Linked DNA regions of Homo sapiens. The protein of the gene in region 2 purifies or fractionates together with the protein of the main gene of each other region. This does not show direct contact. Each region holds a gene or a part of one and is shown on either strand. Other genes may lie near its edges. The genes, in order: NCALD and HSPBAP1.

Evidence for each region.
Region 1: the proteins of HSPBAP1 (region 2) and NCALD purify together in Homo sapiens (affinity purification with mass spectrometry; 2 studies listed by BioGRID and IntAct, with this or other methods). This does not show direct contact.

Annotation. Positions count from the first base shown.
Region 1 is NC_000008.11:101,689,685-101,693,502, reverse strand, and holds part of NCALD (neurocalcin-delta), read left to right. Parts: intron 1-606; coding exon 607-712; intron 713-3,818. UniProt on the Homo sapiens protein: May be involved in the calcium-dependent regulation of rhodopsin phosphorylation. Binds three calcium ions.
Region 2 is NC_000003.12:122,748,734-122,752,551, reverse strand, and holds part of HSPBAP1 (HSPB1-associated protein 1), read left to right. Parts: intron 1-2,076; exon of another isoform or gene 2,077-2,180; intron 2,181-3,818. UniProt on the Homo sapiens protein: May play a role in cellular stress response.

The DNA.
Region 1 (3,818 bases), on a different chromosome or scaffold from region 2:
AGGGGATTTGTATGCACATAAACAATGGAGACGGCTAGGAGAGGTGGCGCATGTCTGTAATCCCAGCACTTTGGGAGGCTGAGGGAGGAGAAGCTTGAGCCCAGGAGTTCGAGACCAGCTTGGGCAACATAATGAGACCTTGTCTGTACAGAAAAAAAAAAAAAAAAAAAAAAAAAAAAAAAAACGCCCTGTGTGGTGGGGAGTACCTCTAGTCCCAGCTGCTGCTCAGGAGACTGAGGTGGGAGGATTGCTTGAGCCTATGAAATGGAGCCTGCAGTGAGCCGTAAGCGTGCCACTACACTCCAGCCTGGGTGACAGAATGAGACCCTGTCTCAAAAAACAATCAAAAAACATTGGAGACACAGGGGTCTACTGGGTCTTCCTGCTGGTTGTCCCTCCTGAAGGTCCTCACTGGAGGAGAACAAGCTTTGTGGGCCCGGCTTCTTCTACCTGTGCCTCCACATCTTATACCAATCAATAGGGGTAGGACTAGGTCCAATGCGGATGGGGACATTCCCTTCAGCCCGCATTTGGGAGGTTTAATGATAGGTCTATTGTGTGCCATACTGTTTTTCTGTCTTACCACCATGTCGCTTCTGTCCCCAGGCAATCTATAAGATGGTTTCCTCTGTAATGAAAATGCCTGAAGATGAGTCAACCCCAGAGAAAAGAACAGAAAAGATCTTCCGCCAGATGGACACCAATAGAGACGGTAGGAGGCGGGGGCTACACTGCTTTGCTCAGATGGGGGCTGCTGGAAGGACTGGAGAGTCCAGACTGGGAAGTGCCACTCGAGGCCCTTCAATGTGAGCGGCTCATCCTCCAAGCCTCCTGGGTGGGTAGGAGGGGAGAGGACCAGGTGGCCACAGGAGAGCTGAGCCCAGAATTGGGGGAAATGCCTTATTTCTAGTTTTTTCTATCCTCCTTGTAGGTCAACTTCTACCTCCAAGAAAACAGAATGGATCTTGTGGGGCAAGAATGAAAGGAACCAAGAAACCATTGTTAGCACAGACCCATCCTTGGGACAGGCCTAGGCTATAGCAGGCTGGGTCCCTGCAGTCCAGTTCATCAAAATGGGGAGAGGGTTGTTATTCTGTGATCCTACCCAGATGCCGACAGCTTTCACTCCAGCCTGCCAAAGGGGTTTTGTTGGGGTCTCCTGTGCATGCACTGAGATGTTGTGTTTCCCAGAGACAGTGGGCTCCCATAGTCACTGGGGTGCCCGGGGTAGTGGTGAGGGAGTAAGGTGCCCAGCAGGTTCCCACCCTGATGGTGCTACCCACAATTCAAACCCAACGAAGTGAAAAAGAAGGTTGCATTTCCAACTTAAGAACAGAAGGATTTTAGATCTTAAATTGCCAGATAGAATACAGGAGGCCCAATTATCCTGGAATTTCAGATAAACAGCAACAGTTGTTAGGATTAGCCTAACAATTGTTTAGCCAACTAAAAAAGTCACTTGCTGTTTATCTGAAATTCAAAGTTAACGGGGCATCATGTATTTAATTTGCCAGATCTGGCAACCCTATTTAAATGTTATACTTGAGTTTAAAGAGCTCAGCTCAGGGCCCGGCTCTGTAGCTCTTGCTGTTATTATCAGCTCACCCGATCTGTTCAGAGGCCTCGGCAATTCTTGTCAACCATGTGCACAGGCACTTGGGTCCCCCACCTGGCGCTGATCTATAGAACAGCAGAAGGCGGCTTCGCAGTACAGAGAGCCTCTGTCTCCTTTTATCCCCCGCCCAGGTACAGCTGCCTAAGAATCTGGGTTTGTGTGGTATGGGCCTGTCTGCTTGCTTGTTTCCTCCACAAAGGTGCCATTCCATTTGGAAACATCCTATGTCCCCTTATTTGCTTTGATTCACAATGAATAGTTGTGACTAAACAAGCACGGGATTATTTTAATAGTTAATTAACTTGCTGATGTTAAACTGCAGGTTTTACTGGTACTCAAGGGAGCACAATGGGTTTGTGCTGTGCTCTAGGTCCAGACAGCTCTTCAGGATAGGGCTGAAGGATGGGAGAAGATCAGATGTCACAGGATAAAGCCCTAAAGCCCTAACTGTGTGTTGATCACAGGCAATGAATTAGGGTCTTTCCACTGGGACTCTGCTGCTATGGGATTGCAGAGCCCTGACTGAGTTAGCATTCTCAGAGCACAACTTACTGCTAAAGACCTGTGCCTTTCCAAAGGAAAACCTCATGTTTAAAATTAAATTAAATTTTCAAAGGTTAGGGTTGGGAGAGGGGGGTGGGAGCTGTAGAAGGAAGGAGGAAGAGGGGCTGTAAGTTCACAGCTGTCAGAGGAATCTTAGCTCAACCAGGAGACTGGGTGCTTCAGCTCAGTGCTTGGCTGCTGGACCCCAGGATTGAGGACACCTGCACCCCTCCCTGCCGAGAGCAGAGCAGTCCTCACCTAGAGTCTCCTACCCTTAGATTTAGCTTGCCTGTTGCTCTTGGAATCTAACTTCTGGCCTCCGATTTGAAAAGAAAAATCTGGGCCCTCAGGCAAGTTCTCCTAGGAGCCAACTCTGAATCATGCAGACAGTTAAGTGAAGAAAGCCAGACGTCATGCCGAGCTCCAGGTCTGCCCCTGCTACCTCCAGCTGGTGCCTCCCAGAGCCGACCCCTGAGAGACTGCAAAGTGTTCAGAGATCACGCCTGTCTCCCTTCCCTCATGCCTTGCCAAGCTGGAGGAAGTCATTACCATTGTAACTACTATGTGGGCAGGGCTGGGCTCATAAAAAATGGCCAGCACACAGAGCTTGGAGGGGATCAGCTCTACAAATTAAAAATAAATTAATAAATGCATCCCTATCTTTTTCCTTCATGGAGATAAAGTGGGTTTCATTAAACAAGAACTAGGTTCTGGCGGGGAGGGAGTTGTGGCTGAGGAGAAGATATGTTTGTTGGTGTTTCTGTTGGGGGAGGCCCCCTCCTGTCAGGTTTGGAGTAAGTTGAGAAATAAAAGAGGACAGAGGTCAAAAGATAGATACTGGAGGCTATGGCTTAGCGTGAGAGTCCAAGGACGTGCTGAAAAACCCACAGGCGTGCAGAGCCAGGCAGGCCGGGTGCTGCCCTTGGAGGAGCAGATGGAAATAAATCCTCTCTGGGGCAGCTCCTTTCAAGAGAAAAAGGGAGGGCAAAGCTGGGCGGAGATGCCCAGCAATTCCTCCCAAATTTACCAATCGAGCATGTCACTTCACTCCCAGGGGCGGGGTAGACAAAGAGGAAGGGTCCTTCTGGAAGCACCAGGAATGGGAAAAGCCTTGCAGTCCCCCAACTCCTACCCCACCCCCTCCCCTCCTCTCCACAAGTGACAGGCCTTCCTGGAAGAGAATTCTGTACGTGCTCCAGAGTAAGCAGAAAGGAAAGGTCACCGGGGTCGGAGTGGGAGCCCAGGCTGCTGAGCCTCCCTCCTCCAGCACATCAGGGTAGCAGGAGAGCACCCTAACTGAGAGGCAGAAACCCATGGGTTACCCTCTGCCTTGAACATACCCTGCTCTTCCCTGACCTCAGATGGAGGCACAGCTGTCTTCCCGTGGTGTATGAACAAACACTTACGTCCACGGCTTCTTCCCCAAGATAGGATGGGCTCTTGCAGCAAACCTAAGAACACAGAGTGGCCTGAAGAACACGAAGTGGCTCAGAAGGCTCCAGGGAACATTATGGGAACCAACCGGGTGCTGCCAGGGCCCAGCTCATTCTCATAAATGCAGGAGGGCCACTTGCTTTACAAATGCTGAGTGAGCCTCTCCAGGGCGCCTGGAGCCAGGAGGTCAGGGACCAAGTCAGCATCATCCACCACCCTCTCCCCA
Region 2 (3,818 bases):
CAAATCATGCTTTTAAAAGATATATAAGGTCTGGCTGTACAACTGGGTAATTAATTTTTTTTAACCAATGCTTCAGTATTTTTTTGTTGCAGTGCACTATAACGTATGCATTCTGTCTTCTGTTAATGGATGTTTAGGTTGGAAATTGGAATTTTAGTGGTGTGCCACTCTCTTTCTTTTAAGGACACAGAATGCGCCTGATGCTGGCATGCAGGGTCCTTTCCCTTGACCAGTGTTGTTAGGAAAATTGTATTGGGCCTGGCCAGATTTGCCGATATGTGTCCCTTGTTGCCGCTCCTCTTTCACACCATCTGGGCTGGAAATACCTGCTTCTTGGTTCAGGGTCATTACTAATTGCAGAATTCTGTCTTGGCTTCTACATATTCTCAAAGCGGAGTCTTTCTTTCAGTGCTAGGTTTTTATCATTTCATTTCTGCCAGAAGCCTTTCCCTCTGATGTGTTAAGCTTAATCCTGGTTGCCTGCTCTATTTGACAATTAGAATAGCTGCTTGTTATGCTCAAGTCTGTCTCTTCAACTGGGGCCTTAATTGCAGCTGCCTCTCTTTAACCAGAGGCCCTGACTGCATCTCTGCTCTCCTTGACCTGAAGCCTGGATTGCATCTTTCTGCTCTGTTTGACAGCCGTATCCTCTCCCTAGTCTAGTTTTTCCTATCCTTTGCTAATAGGAATGGCTTTGGAATCAGTGGAACAGAAGGAATATTGTTACAGAAAGCTATGTTGTGTGGGCTTAGTGAAGAGTTGTAGCCCTTGAGGCTTAAGTGAGAGGTATGGCAGGAGATCAGTAGCGTCACAGAAATTTCGCCTATAGCATGCTGAACTGGAGTTGCAGCAGATGTCAAGGTAGAATCCATGGAGAACTTCCACTCCCAATGCCAAAGTCATATCTACAATAGCCCTGACAGGTGCTTCACCTCCCAAGGAAGTTCGCTTGTTGTTAAAGAGTAGAGCTGTCATCTTTTTAAAATATTTGAAAATACCTCCAAGTTTTTCCATAATCTTTTCTTCTTCCATGCTCAAAACCTCTTACTTTCTTTAATGGGGTGTTTTTATGGGTGATTTTTTCCTTTTTCCAGACTTTTTACCATTCTGGCCATAGACTTTGGAATCAGGCAACTTTAAGATACAGGTTACCTTTGTTAGCTGTCTAACATAGATAATTACTTAATCTCTTCAAGCCTCCATTTTCTTGTAAAATGAGGATTATAATTGAACCCACCTCAGTAGAGTAATTGGACAACACATTGTAAAAGCATCTAATATAGTGCGTGGCATATGGGAAGTGTTTAAAAAGTAGAAATTGCTATGAGGAGGAGGGAGAGCTATTATGTCAAGAATAGTTCTCTTAATATATAGTGCCTAAAACTGAATATCAGTAGGCCTTATTTGGTAGAGTATAAGATTTCTACCCCACATGATCTCGATCCTAAATATCTCCAGTGCTGCTTGTAATATTGGGTTAGTTTTTTAAGTAATCTCATCTCACTTTAGTTTCATATTCAACTTTAAAATATCTGTGATTTTTTTTCACATGATCTGCTGTCAGGCAGGTTGAATCCTATCCTGTACCTATAAAGCTGATTTTAATTCTAAATCCAGTATTTCACAGTCATCCCTGTTAATTTTCATCATATTGGTTTGGTTGAGCATTCCAGCTTGACAAGATAATTTTAAATTTGGGTCTTATCTGTCATTTTAGTGAAACTTCAAGCTGGCCTGTGCCCTTTTGATATGTCCCCGTTAATTAGACTTTGAGTGTATCCTGGCTTTCTGGCACAGGAAGATATCCCAGGATACCCTTTCTCCTTTAGTGCCCCACACTTGGAAGTCAATCATTTCTCCAGGTAGCCACAGTTCTTTTTGTAGGAAATGGCATTTAGAAACTGAGATCTCAGCTCTAAATCTGTTCATTGCTCCTGGGTGTCAGTGTTTCTAGGCTCTTTCAGTGATGTAGCTAGAATGTGAGATAGATAGATAGATTAGATAGATAGATAGATAGATAGATAGATAGATAGATATTGATGTATTTATATTTCTAATTCATGTGTTTAAAAAATATATCTAGACAGGTAATATGCTGACGTCATAACAAGGCTTAAGGGAGGCATGTCTCACACATGAGCATGACACCCAATCATCAGACTTATGAACTATAAAAGTATCTAATTCAAGTTTAACATGATAGAATTTTTTATTTGTTTCTGTATTTTTATCTCTTCTCTTAACACTGAAAATCTGGGTCCTTAAAAACAGTAACATAAGGCCGGGCACGGTGGCTTACGCCTGTAATCCCAGCACTTTGGGAGGCCGAGGTGGGTGGATCATGAGGTCAAAAGATCGAGACCATCCTGGCCAACATGGTGAAACCCTATCTCTACTAAAAATGCAAAAATTAGCTGGGCATAGTGGCACGCACCTGTAATCCCGGCTATTCGGGAGGCTGAGGCAGGAGAATCGCTTGAACCAGGGAGACAGAAGTTGCAGTGAGCCGAGATCAAGTCACTGCACTCTGGCCTGGCAACAGAGCGAGTCTCTGTCTCAAAAAAAAAAAAAAAGAAAGAAAACCAGTAACATATTTACTTGTTTGCTGTATCCAGCAATATATTTTTTAAGATATCAAATTTGGCCGGGTGCAGTGGCTCACACCTATAATCCCGGCACTTTGGGAGGCCGAGGCGGGCAGATCACATGGTCAGGAGATTGAGACCATCCTGGCCAACATGGTGAAACCCCTTCTCTACTAAAAAAATACAAAAAATTAGCCGGGCATGGTGGCGCATGCCTGTAGTTCCAGCTACTCAGGAGGCTGAGGCAGGGGAGTCACTTGAACCCAGGAGGTGGAGGTTGCAGTGAGCTGAGATCGCGCCATTGCACTCTAGCCTGGTGACAGAACAAGACTCCATCTCAAAAAAAGAAAAAGATGTCAAATTTATGTTTCCAAAATTCAAATAGTAATATTACTACTAACCATAAAGCTTGCAAGTAAAAATTAAGATTTCTTTGCAATTCTTTTTATTATTAGACTGTATCTATCACTAAGAGGGATAGATACAAAGTCCTTTATTCAGGAGTCATTGTGAAGGAATTCTTTTCATTTATGGTTATTTTACTAATTGGATATTTAGTTAAGTTCATTTGTTTCAGTTTGTTTTCAATTTTAGGATTTACCTTTTTAAAATTTTGATCTAATTTAATATTTTAAATATGTAGAACATTTAACTTGTCAAAACTATGTTAAAAGTTATACTCAGGGAAGTCTGCCTTTCATCCCTGTTCCATCCACTCCATTTTTCCCAACCTTTATAGAGATCCATTTTTATTCATTTCTGGTTTATCATTTCCAGTGTTTCTTGTAAACATATATATCTATATCTATATATAAAAGTAAGTAAATGAATAGATATATTTATATATGTAAATAAGTATATAAACAGTCTTATATGTACAAAGTGCATAAGCATATAAATATGTCTTTACTTATTTATATACTTATTCAAATATATTTTAAATTTTCTATCCTTTATTCCATAGAAAGTAATAAACTATAGTGTTCCATACCTTGCTTTTTTCAACAATAATATCTTGAATTTCACTACATAATAGTACAGAGAAATATTCATATTTTTCTTCAACCACTGTCTAGTACTTCACTGTATGGGTGCTCTACTGTTCATTAGTTCCTTTAAGGATAGATGTTTGGGTTGTTTCCAGTCTTTTGTAATTACAAATAATGCCACTGAATAACCTTGTGCATATGTTGTTTTATATTTGTTGAAGTGTGTCTTTGGGGGAGATCTTAA